Regions from separate parts of the Homo sapiens genome. Here all the other regions are reported to be linked to region 1. The links are microRNA targets in miRTarBase. Many come from high-throughput screens and were not tested one by one. Region 1 holds a microRNA gene; each other region holds the end of a gene's coding sequence. Distances are from middle to middle.

Region 1 (3,170 bases):
CAGGGATCCACTCACCTTGAAGATAAGGACAGTGATGAAGGCGATGGAAAAGATGATCATCATCTTGATGAACTGGTTATGAGGCATATCCTCCTGGCTGGGGAGGTAATTCTGCAACAGATTTGGGGGCCACATCAATGTCTCTGGACATAAGGAATTCCAACAGCACCCACACATCCGGGAATAATGATCCCACCCTCCACACACACACGAGCACAGCGTGGCACAGCCGTCACCTTGGTCGACCGCCACAGCAGCCTTAGGAAGCAGGTGCTACCTTCAGCCCCATCCCACTGACGGGCAAACCAAGAAAAGCCAAGTGGCTACTATCTCCAGATCTGCTTCCCAGGCTGGCGCACCGGCCCATCCCCAGCTGGCAGGTGTCAGCTGCCCATGGGCCACACCTATGCTCTTCTCTACAAGATCATTTTGGCTGACAGGGACCACCTAATCCACTAATACCTGGGAGGTTACATTCCCTCCCCTAGGGGCAGCTTGAAACCAATGACTGATGCAGGGGAACTCGCCCTAGGTGAGACTGCCTCTGTGGTCATTTGCAAATATTACCACACATTCTTTGAGACGCCTCCCTTCTAAAGGTGGTGTTTATTTCCTCTCCCCTTGAGTGTGGGCTGGACTTAGCAACGCACTTCTAACTAACAGAATGTGGCAGAAGTGATAGAAGTCTTAAAAGACACTGCCTTTCCTCCTTGCTTATCTCTTACATCACTCCCGCAGGGGAAGCCAGCAGCCATGTCAGGAGAGCACTCAAGCAGCACTACTACAAGTCCACAGGATGAGGAATTAGGCAAAGAGCCCACGCCCTGTGAGTGAGCCACCAGGAGTTCATCCTTCAGATCTAATCAAGCCCTCAGTTGTCCACAGCCCCAGGTACCATCTCTGGTGCAGCCCCACCAGAGTCCCTGAGTCAGAAGAACCCAGCTAAGCCACTCCCAAGCTCCTGATCCTCAGAAGCTGTGTGAAATAATAAATGTTTATTGCTTTAAGCCATGATGCTTAGAGATAATTCATTAGACAACAATAAAAACTGATATTATGTCTGTGTTGCAATTCACATGCCAAAGCCCTCTCTGGGATCATGCAGGGCTGCTCCTACAGCCACATCTTTGCTTCTTTGCTTGGCTTCCTCCTTTTCTCGAACCTGCCTTCCTCACTCCTGACAAGTTTCTTCCTGAGAGGGCTCCCTCAATAAATCACCAGCACAAGAATCTTCCTCCCAAGCTCCAACTCCAGGGAACCTGGCCTAAACCACAGACACACAGAGACGTGAAGTAACCTGTTCAAGGCCACACAGCCAGCAAATGGGCATGGTTCCCTGCCCCAGACTCACCATGTGGTTCATGGACTTGAAGTTGAGATAGGTGGGCACTTCCATGTAGGAGCTGCAGAGGGTCAGGATGCTCAGGCAGAAGTCCAGCAGCTGCAGCGTCATCAGGGGGAACTTGGAGGAGCTCTGGGGAGGACAAATACAAGGAGGAGGAATGAGGAGCAGCAATTAAAGTCCCAGTTACTGAGCGGCACATAGTAGGCCCTCACTTGAGAGACCGTCTCAGCTACAGACATCAGTGACTCTCGTCCCCTGTGCACAGAGAGACATGAACACACAGATGTTCATACCAAGAGCTGGTGGCAGACCCAAGACTAGAACCAAGGTCTCCAGACTCCCGGGCCAGGGCCCTTCCATGATGTAGCCCCCCGGTCTCTTCAAGGACAACAGTTGGGGAGAGTGAGAAAAGCAGGTTTGGGAGACTGTGTCCTTGACTGGCAGCAGCCCTCAAGCCACCCCACAGTGGGCGCTCACTGGCATGAATCATCCTTCTCTTCCTTTCTTCAACTTGGTTCCAAAGAAGAAATAATACTGGGGGCTGGGGGCTAAAAAGCGCACATGTCCTTTCCTCAGGTGTCAATTCACTCCCAGCAGCACTGACTGAGTGCTGACCATGGGCTGCACCCCCAATGTGTGTGTTCCTCATGTAACCCTCATAAGGCAGGCTGATGAGATGTGATTGCAGGTACATTCCACAGAGGAAGAAACTTGGGGCAATGTGGAGGGACTCAGAGACTGGGTCAAGACACCAGCCAGGAAGAGGGCTCCTACCCTCCCCAGCCTGAGCACAGGGCCCGTGTCTGGTCCCCTCCCATCTCCCATGCCAGACCTGGGCTCTGCTGTCCGGTGAGAGGTGGGGGCTGGGTACTCACAGCACGGCTCCGGGAGGCCAACTTGAGGTAGGCGGGCAGCTCAATGTAGGAGCCCAGCAGGGTGAGCAGGCACAGGAGATAGTCCATGATTTGCAGGGACAGGAAGGGCAGCAGGTACTTCTCCCGGTTCTGAAAGGTAGGCCCAGCACCGTCAAGTGTCCCCTGCATGCAGCCAACACTCCGCCACCCAGCCTGATATCCTCATGCATCCCCTTCCCACCCTCTCCCAAACCTTCCCTGCCCTCCTCAGTTGAGGTCACCTCCCTCTGAGTGACACTCTGGGGACAGGGAGTGGATAAGACCCAGGCCCTGAATGAGAGGAGTCTTGGTGTCCCAGGAGACGTAAGGGAACCATCCCCATCTATCAGGGCTCAAAGAGCAGGATTTGACTCAATTTGCTCACAAGAACCCAGCAAGGAAGGGCTTTGTGCACTTTTTACAGAGGAGAGGGGACCAGAGAGGACTTGCTGGAGGTGGGGACACCAGGGCTAGATCGGGGAAGGAGACTAGGAGTGAACAGGAGGGAGGGGCGGGGCACTGGAGGCAGAAAGACCAACATGAGTGAAGGCCCGGAGGCAGCAGAGAGCCCCTCCCCCCCACCCCCCACTCCCCACCACGCCCCGCATACAATTGGACCTTCCTCCACCAGCCACTCCCAGGGGTCCAAAGTCACAGTAAGAGGCCCTGCCAGGAAGAGGCTGAAGTCCCTCTTCTTCAATTGAAAGCAAGTGACCACCATGACCAGTATTCATTCATATGCTCTCACAGCTGGGGACAAAATCACTGCAACAGTGGTTTCCTGGTGTCTCATGTGGTCGTCTAAAATCACTCAGGAGGCAACCAGAACAATCTTGACTGATCTCAGAGTCTTCAGGGACCACCTGCTCCATTTCTCCATTTCTCTAGCTGAACCCTTTGAGTTTCTGCACAAGCACCCACAGCCACCCTGC
Region 2 (3,170 bases), not on the chromosome of region 1:
ACCCTATTTTAAAATTTAGTAGATAGCAATAGTAATCAAAATAGAGTGGTATTGGCATAGGTTTAGGCTCGAAGACCAATGGAATAACATAGAGAACCAAGAAATAGACCAACATGAATATACTTAAATAATTTTTTGCTAAGGTGTAAAAGCAATTCAATAGAGGCAGAATAGTCTTTTCAAGAAATGGAGCTTAAAAAAATTCATGGGCAACAACAAAAGAAACTAAAGTTCATACTGTAATACAAAAATTAACTTAACATGAATCAGATCCAATGTAGAAGATAAAATTTGTAGGAGGAAATACGATAGAAAACCTGGTGAGGAGTTCTTAGACATGACATAAAAAGGACAAGGAGGGCCAGGCGTAGTGGCCACGCCTGTAATCCCAACACTTTGGAAGGTTGAGCCAGGCAGATCACAAGGTTAAGAGATGAAGACCATCCTGGCCAACATGGTGAAACCCCATCTCTACTAAAAATACAAAAATTAGCTGGGTGTGGTGGCACAAACCTGTAGTCCCAGCTACTTGGGAGGCTGAGGCAGGAAAATCACTTGAACCCGGAAGGTGGAGGCGGCTGCAGTGAGCCGAGATCTCACCACTGCACTCCAGCCTGGGCAACAGAGCGAGACTCCATCTCAATTAAAAAAAAAAAAGGACCAAGAGATGTCTTCAAAATAATGACATGAATTAATGCAGTACAAAATGGCTTTGCCTACAATAGAAAACTATACAAGTGTTCACTAAAAGGCTGTGAGCGCTGGGCGCAGTGGCTCACACCTGTAATCCCAGCACTTTGGGAGGCCGAGGCAGGTGGATCACCTGTCAGGAGTTCGAGATCAGCCTGACCAACATGCAGAAACCCCATCTCTATTAAAAATACAAAATTAGCTGGGCGTGGTGGCGCATGCCTGTAATCCCAGCTACTTGGGAGGCTGAAGAAGAATCGCTTGAACTCGGGAGGCAGAGGTTGCAGTGAGCCAAGACTGTGCCACTGAACTCCAGCCTGAGCAACAAGAGCAAAACTCTGTCTCCAAAAAAAAAAAAAAAAAAAAGGCTCTGAGGAGGGAAGTCCCACTTGGACACCCCTCTCTTCTCAGAAGAGAGCTAGTCTCTTTTCTCTTTCTTTTGCCTATTAAACCTCTGCTCCTAAACCAAGTAAGTAAATAAGTAAATAAATAAAAAAGGCTTTGAGGAGTTCAAAGTGAATACATGATTATTTTTACTTCTGTACAATATATTTAATATGAGGTAAAACTATCACATGGCTCAAAATCTAGTCTTAAAAATATAAAAAAGGAATTACAAAACGCTCTAAATGTGTAGCATTTTAATCAAGCCTAAGTCCATGGTGACAACTGTGAAAGTCACACATCCCTACATATATGCATGCCGGCTTGCCTGTTAAAATTCCAGTTAAAGTGAATTTTCACACACTCTTTAAAAAGATTAAAAATGACATTCCTTCTATGTTTGTTCTTCTGAGTTTATCATGATCTTTCAAAGGAATTCAGCTACATACTGTATTTTTGGGGGGGCCTTAATTTGACCTTTAGAAAACTGAGGTGGACCTAACTCAAAGGAGAGGTAAAGAAGCTGAGAAACCACAATCATAGGAAAAAACTAAGATTCCCAGGATTACTGTGGGCATGAACAATTACACTATCATCCCTATCCCAGGAAAACTTAAAAAAAAAAAAAAAAAGTAAATCCACATCAAGAAAAAGTATGTGTATTGGGTAAAGACACATGGTGAAACATTTTTTTAAACAAGCATCTGAAGTGGACAATGTGTCCAAACATATGTACATCCTTATCTCCTTATAAAAGTGTTTCATAACTCAAGCCTCCATATTTTTTATAAAGATGTATGCTTCTGCACCTCGAGAGTGGAGAACGTTGCAGGACTAAGCAAGTTTTCACAAAATGTTTTCAAGCCCTCGTTTGTATAACTGTTCTGACACTGGGCAGCAGTGAATGCATACACAGAAAAATAAAGGGGATGAGATCTTTCGTTTCTGAAACATTTCCCTCTCCCACATAAAATAACAAAGGGACGACAAAATTGCCATAGGCTTGTCAGACAAGTCTAAAAGAAGCTGTGGTTTCTTTCTCTTCCCTATATTTCCTCTTCCTTTGTTTAAATATCCCTGAGATGGCCGGGCGCGGTGGCTCACGCCTGTAATCCCAGCACTTTGGGAGGCTGAGGCGGGCGGATCACGAGGTCAGGAGATCGAGACCATCCCGGCTAAAACGGTGAAACCCCGTCTCTACTAAAAATACAAAAAATTAGCCAGGCGTAGTGGCGGGTGCCTGTAGTCCCAGCTACTTGGGAGGCTGAGGCAGGAGAATGGCGTGAACCCGGGAGGCGGAGCTTGCAGTGAGCCGAGATCCCGCCACTGCACTCCAGCCTGGGCGACAGAGCGAGACTCCGTCTCAAAAAAAAAAAAAAAATATCCCTGAGATAATATTTCACTGTAAACTAAGAAGAAAGATGTGGCTGAAAGTTTTCCTAAGTGCATAGCAACCACTGGGTCTCTCTCATGGGTGAATTCTCAGGTGGAGAATAAGACTCCAGGCTGGTTCAATTTCTAACTTGATTGTTTAGACGACAAATGATCATCTATTACACGTTTTCTCAAAGAGAGGATGCTTATGAAGTTTCTCTTCAGTGTGAATGGCCAGATGGTAAGATGTTCCCTTTCACCACAGATTTTCTTCAGTGGTGATATTCAAAAACTCTTTCCCTAATAAAAGTTCCTGGATGTTGACTGAAGTCTGTGCAGTCATAAAAGGTCTTCCCACATCTGTTACAATGGTAGGGTTTCTCCCAGTATGAATCCTTTGATGATGTGTGAGGGATGAGCCGCGATTAAAAGCCTTTCCACACTCACTGCATTCATACGGCTTCTCTCCAGTGTGAATGATGGAGTGTCGAATAAGGTTTGCGCTCCGGCAAAAGGCTTTCCCACACTGGATGCATTCATAGGGTTTCTCTCCAGTGTGAATCTGTTGGTGCCTCGTGAGGTGTGAGCTGCGGTTGAAGGCCTTTCCACACTCCACGCACTCATAGGGTTTCTCTCCAGTGTGGATGCTGAAGTGGCGAATGAGGTCTGCCCTATCACTAAAGGCTTTTCCACATTCTTTGCATTCATAGGGTTTTTCTCCT
Region 3 (3,170 bases), 60 Mb from region 1:
ATAAAAGACGAATTTTGAATGCTTCCTAAAGAATTCTTTAAATTTTGTAACCCAAATATCTTTACTATGAAAAATGCTCTTTGCTTAATTTACTTTTCAGGAGTCACTCTAGTCTACTGTTTCTGATGTGAAATATTTTATTCTGATGACTGAATTCTTTATATAACTAGAAGGAGAAATAATTGTTTACATATAGTTCAACATATTTTAAAATTAAATGTAGTTTTGATTCCGAAACTTGTGGTCAAACTAATTCTTCTACTTGTATTCACACATGTTGATATTTGGCCTGATAAGACAAAATCATAGAAGTGTAAGAATTAGGAGGCCAGGTGTGGTGGCTCATGCCTGTAATCTCAACACTTTGAGAGGCGGAGGCGGAAGGATCTCTTGAGCCCAGGAGTTCAAGCACAGCCTGGGCAACATGGTAAAACTCTGTCTCTACGAAAAATACAAAAACTAGCCAAGAGTGATGACATGTGCTTTTAATTCCAGCTACTTGGGAGGCTGAAGTGGGAGGATCACTTGAGTCCTGAGAGGTTGAGTCTGCAGTGAGATATGATCACACCATTGCACTCCAGCCTGGGTGACAGAGTAAAACTCTGTCTTTAAAGAAAAAAAAAAAGAATTAGAGTGGAAAGGGGCTCTAGTGATTACTAGCCTTCCCACAAGATTCCTATGATTTTTGTTTGTTTGTTTGGTTTTTACTTCTGGACTCCACTTGCTATGTAGTATGTCTTCCAATTTAAAAATATATATTCAAAGACATATAACTATCAACGAAACTTGTTCAGTAAGAGATAACCAATATATACAGACTTGGTATATTTTCAGTCAAAAGTAAAGAAATGGGATGTTTTAGTTAGTTTTGTCACTATAGACAAATACATAGTTTTTATCGGGACTTTTGTAAAATTGAAAATAACTTACAAGTACTATTCCCTTATCTATTAACCTAAGGATCAGGAGACCCTTGGTTGGGAATGATCCAACTAGTCCAACCTTCTAATTTTGCATATAAGATGGCTCTGAATTTAGAGGTTTGATTAATCATGAAAGGGGGAAAATGATTTTTCTCACATACATTATATTGACCAATGAGGTGATTCTAGAAAAACTATGCTCTGTGATCCAAGTAACCTGGCAAGGATAAACAATTTAAATCCAATGAAACACAACCTGAAGTGAACTATTACCACCAATGATAAAAATAAGAAATGTTTCACATTTTAATTTTCTTTAAACCTTTTTTTATTTAGAGATTTTTCTGGTAAGGAGATATACCATAGGAAAGCAATTTCACTGGCAGTGAGGTATGTATATACTCTACCAAAATACTCCTTATTTTAACTGTTTTTAACTTTATTTACATACGAAGCAAAGAATCAATGCATATCCTTGGTTCAACTATAGTATTAGCCATACTACATGAAATAAAATGGTGCTTGCATACAAAAACTTGTTGTTTGTAAAGGAATCTGATTTCAGATTAAAATACCTAATTGTTTTTGGAAAAAATTTTTAAAAAGAATCACAATTTATCATGACCAAGACACCTGCACCATATTTTCCATTCCTCACAGCACATTTATTTCAGTAATTCTGTTATGTCGGTTCTTAGCATGAGCATAGTGTTACACGATTTTCGTACATATAATCACATCCAAAACAAGTTCTAAAATTTAAATTGTAAACATTCTCATATGTAGAAATATTTTAATTGGTGTATTAAGTTTTGCTAACTGATCAAATTTGGAAGATAATATAAATGAGAACGTCTATTCTAAACTGTGTAGTGAGCATTGTTTATTAATTACATTTCTACAATGTTAAATAAAGTAAGAGGCAAACCTGTCCTGTAAGCATGTCAAATTTTAGGTAAAACATTAAAAAGAAACAAACCTGTTAACAAAAGAATGTCTTGCAATAAAGAACATTAGATTTTTAAAATCTATTATGATACAAAAATGTAAAGGGTAAATAGCATCTTTGTTGACAAAGTAGGAGGTAGCATGGATGCACCACTTTATTGTCTGAGAAATGCAACTGGAGTAAAGAATATTTCCTTACCACAAATAATTTCCAGAACTATGTACATATTTCTTTTAGAAATACTTGTTTAAACAAATCTCCCTCCACTTTTTAGTATAAAAAAAACCGTTCCATGTGATTTTAAAAAAAACACTTACACATCTAGATAGAATAGTACTCTGCCCTATTTGAGTGAACAGTCTCAAACTATGAAGTACATGATATTTAATGCCCTAATTTGAGTAAATTTAGTCAGCGGTTCTTGGTATTATACAAAACACTAAATACATACAAACAAAATATAATATCTTATTTTTCTATGCAAGTCTTGTGGGGAATAAACAGAGCCTTGATTCTGGTAACACTGCAAAAAACATAATTGTCCAATAAGTCTGTCTATAAGTATCCATGTGCAACAGTTTATTAATGGCTGCTTACATGTACTGCTCTTTTACTGAGTGAACACAGTTAACCAACAAAACTTCATAAACCTTAAAAACACATCTTCCACCCTATATAAAATATATAGACTACTTACTGTTTTAAGTATTCAATTTGCTCTGATGTCACTGTAATTCACTTTCCCCCCATTTTCCTGCTTTAGTATTTATAAACAGATAATTTAATGTGGCTTAAAAAAAAAGAATTTCAAATTTACATCCAATTCAAACTGGCTATTTAAAAGGTTTCCTGGTTCTATGAAGCTGCTTCGGCCATTAGTAGAGAAAATGAAGTTTCTGTAATGGAGGCAGGCTTTTTAAGTAGTGACGTGACTTCCACCATGCCAGCTCCAGTCCGTGGAAGATTAGCGTTTACAATATGTCGTTGTAAGTGCTTAATCCAGTCTTCCTGAACAGACAAGGGTCCTCGAAAGACTAGGCCACAAAACCTACAGAAAGATAACAATTCTCTTAACATGACCAATTCTCTTTCTTTAAAACTAATTCACACAAAATCCTAAAACATAAGGAATAAACTTTATCATATTTTAAAGACAGCAATTGATAAAGTTTCTAAAGTCAAATGATTTAATAAAACATCAAAACTCCCAATTCATATGTTTATTAACAGCTATAATAAACTCCAGTAATCTTTGTATAGGTGGGAGCATTATTATTTTAAAATTAACATCTACACAT
Region 4 (3,170 bases), not on the chromosome of region 1:
CAATTAAAGAATTGCAGAGTTGTTTGTTAAAGTTTGTGAGGAGAGGAGACATGCTCCCCATACATTTGCCTTGTCAAGGAAGTCAGTTTCTCTTGTTTCCCTCTCAGGTACAGTATCATGAAGTCCTGCTGGCGCTGGCGTGAGGCTGACCGCCCCTCACCTAGAGAGCTGCGCTTGCGCCTAGAAGCTGCCATTAAAACTGCAGATGACGAGGCTGTGTTACAAGTACCAGAGTTGGTGGTACCTGAACTGTATGCAGCTGTGGCCGGCATCAGAGTGGAGAGCCTCTTCTACAACTATAGCATGCTTTGAAGAGTCTCGGGCAAGAAACATTCATGCATGAGTATATGTTCTTGGAATCAATTCCTCTAAGAACAGAGAATGGTCTTTCCCAGGGACACAAAGGGAGAAATGGGACATGGATTCTTGATCTTCCTTTACACATTTCTCGGGAAATCTGAAATGATGCTGGATGGGACTCTACACATCCTGAGCTAAGACATACTGTCAGTCTCACTTCTGCTGTCCCAGTCCTAGAAATCCTGGGTAGAAGTGGTGGACCTGTGCAAAGGAGGTTTTAGAACTCTGCAGTATTTGTTGGGGCATGGCACAAATAAGCTCATCCCTCCCGTCCGAGGCTAGTTTCCTCTGGAACCACATTTTTATCTAGATGAAAATTTGGAATGAAATGAAGGAATAGAAATCCAATAAAAGAGTTGAAGGGAAAGAAAATTTAAGGTTCTTCTTGCTCAGGATTACAGATATGGACCAACACCTCCTTCAAGAAAAGGTGGTAGGACACAAAGTTCTTCAGTCCTGAGCCCTACATGTGGGGTTGGAGGAGAACTATAACGGAAAAACCTCTGAGTTTCACCTTAGGTATAGATAAAAGAAAGATGGTCCCCTTTTATCTGATTCTGAGACAGGTAAATTCTGTTTGTTACTACGTTTAATTAGAAGGTGGAGGAGTCATTTCATGATTAAGAACATTCAACATGTATTGTTCATTAAGCTAGCTTCCTAGTTCCGATTAGACTAAGGAGACTAAGCCTAGAGAGTCAATGTTAGAACAGTGAAAAGAATTCTGTGTGTGTGTGTGTGTGTGTGCACAATAAATAGGAAATGTAGAAACCAAGCAAGAAGGCTTAGTAGCTCAGTCTTTAACAAGGGCTAGAAAAGAATGTAATCTGATATGGAAGGATAGCAGCTTCTAATTTTCAATCATCTGTTGATATACTGTGAAACTTATTTTATTAAATTAATATTTATTAAATGGAAATATGCTTTTCTGGTTTATAACTACTAAAAATATCATAGGGAGGATAAAAGTAAATAAGTGAAAGTTAATGCCAATAGAAAAATTCAAGAGATAATGTACAATGTCAGAAAAGGGATTCTTTATGTGTAAATGGGGATAATACCTATTTCACAAGGTTGTTCTGAGGATTGATACGTTTTGAGTATGTATTTGTACACTATCTGGCACATATGCGCTCAATAAACGTGTTTCTCCTTTTCTTTTGCCCTTCCTAACCCAGGACCTTTCATATATTTTTCATTTAAAATCTACTGTGACCAAGAAGAGAAACTCAGTCGCTAACACTGCAAGGCAGGACATGCCTAAAGATGATGATATGGCACAAGTAGTGATATTATACATGTGCAATGATGAAGTCATCATTTTTGTACGCTTTTGGATGATGATAGTGGACTCCTACTATTACAAAATATTGAAAACATCATCATGAGGGCAATTCTGTTGAACATGGTAGTCTGCAATTTTAAAAAACACTTTGGGTACCCTGGAAGGGACATCTAAGGCTGCCATAAGAAAAATGACTGGCAGCTAAAAATGTTGTAGAAGTTGGAATCCTGATGGAATCATAATGAGTCAGCTAAAGGAATAATGATTCTTGCCGCTGTAAGAATACCACAATGACTAGTCAGGATTTAAATGGGTAGCAAGTTGCAGTAGGGAGAAGGGCAGAAGAGTGGCTTCACACAAAATTACAAAGTCCTATGGAATCCCATTGTTGCCTCTCAGCTGTTCAGTTAAGTCAAAATTACAAATATTTACTTATTTATCTGATCACTGAAAAATATTGAGTGTTAAGGCTTGCTGTGCCAGACACTTGGCTAGGTGTAGGATAAAAGAAATAGGGAGCTTTTGATTACAGTCTAGAAGGTGAGACACATTATACATTTATTTGTGTGGGTATCTGTTAAGTGCGAAGTGTTAAGTGCTATAAAGAAAAAGCATAGGGTAGTAGAAGGGAGTTTAAAAGGAACACTTCCCTGAACAGAAATGGGCTATAAACTGAGACCTTAGGGATGGGTAAGTAACCCAGGCCGAATAAGAAGAGTCTCCCAGGAGGAGGACATGTGTGCGTGAAAATTCTGAGGCAAGGAACTGCAAGAAAGCATATGGGTTGCAGCACGGTGAGCTAAGGGAAAGTGGAACACAGTGAAATGGAAGGTTGCTTTGTTGTACTGTCATATTTCTTTTAGTAGGAGGGAAAGAAGCAGACAATTGATATTTAAGTTTTTTACCCCCAATTTTATTTGTTTTTCCGGCCCGGAAAACTGGATACAGTAATTTTTACTCTAAGAAAACTGGGTCTTTCTCTCACTTGGCCAGGCTTCTTCCAGAAGGAGGATGATATTTCTGGCATCATTGACCTTTCAGCCAAACTAGGTGTTTCCAAGCTAATGAATGAAAAAAAGAATCAAAATATTTATCATTTAATCGGGTTGACTCTAGATAGATTTTGTTGTATTGTTTTGATTGCCTTCTCTTCCAGTCTTGTTTTTCCAATCTATGCTTTATTGTTAAAAAAAAATTCCAACACTTAGGAACAACGCAAACACCCACCTAGATACAGTGTCTAAGGGAAACTTGGTAACGTCGTTTAAAATAGAATAGTCTGAACCAGTAGTTCTTAAATTATGCTTATGGAGCACACTATGTTTTTTTATGCCAGATTTAGGTATTCTGTTATTAAAATCAAATAATAGTAGTGGGTTTTTTTTTAGCATTTTAAAACAAAAAAAGTCAGTTAATTAAGATTTCTTAATCTTAACTCTGTTGCAATAATTTTTTTAAATTTTGCTTTAACACTCTTACTGAAATAAATAAGTAGCAAATACAGTGGAAGACTGGAAGATATCCT

Evidence for each region. The annotated mature microRNA hsa-miR-4420 reads GUCACUGAUGUCUGUAGCUGAG and lies in region 1 at 1,570-1,591, opposite strand. An mRNA with a match to its seed (bases 2 to 7 or 8) in the 3' UTR can be bound and repressed. Matches are read on the target gene's strand: a 7mer-m8 pairs with bases 2 to 8, a 7mer-A1 pairs with bases 2 to 7 and ends in A, and an 8mer does both.
Region 2: the mRNA of ZNF543 is a reported target of hsa-miR-4420. Seed matches in the 3' UTR shown: 7mer-A1 at 2,473-2,479.
Region 3: the mRNA of ZNF644 is a reported target of hsa-miR-4420. Seed matches in the 3' UTR shown: 7mer-A1 at 1,299-1,305.
Region 4: the mRNA of STYK1 is a reported target of hsa-miR-4420. Seed matches in the 3' UTR shown: 7mer-A1 at 1,071-1,077.

What each region holds. Positions count from the first base shown.
Region 1 is chr1:30,737,589-30,740,758 of GRCh38, forward strand. MIR4420 (microRNA 4420) reads right to left here and starts at 1,644; the gene lies at 1,568-1,644. It overlaps LAPTM5 (lysosomal protein transmembrane 5), which reads right to left. Exons shown (of 8, transcript NM_006762.3): 4 at 2,221-2,349; 5 at 1,352-1,474; 6 at 16-111. RefSeq lists an enhancer at 1,622-2,181.
Region 2 is chr19:57,328,800-57,331,969 of GRCh38, reverse strand. It overlaps ZNF543 (zinc finger protein 543), which reads right to left. Exons shown (of 4, transcript NM_213598.4): 4 at 1,200-3,170. The coding sequence ends at 2,705. Among named protein-coding and RNA genes, the nearest start is that of ZNF543, 9.9 kb to the right of the region's middle.
Region 3 is chr1:90,914,071-90,917,240 of GRCh38, forward strand. It overlaps ZNF644 (zinc finger protein 644), which reads right to left. Exons shown (of 6, transcript NM_201269.3): 6 at 1,234-2,920. The coding sequence ends at 2,728. Among named protein-coding and RNA genes, the nearest start is that of LINC01763, 64 kb to the left of the region's middle.
Region 4 is chr12:10,617,286-10,620,455 of GRCh38, reverse strand. STYK1 (serine/threonine/tyrosine kinase 1) reads left to right here. Exons shown (of 11, transcript NM_018423.3): 11 at 108-1,533. The coding sequence ends at 312. Among named protein-coding and RNA genes, the nearest start is that of MAGOHB, 5.3 kb to the right of the region's middle.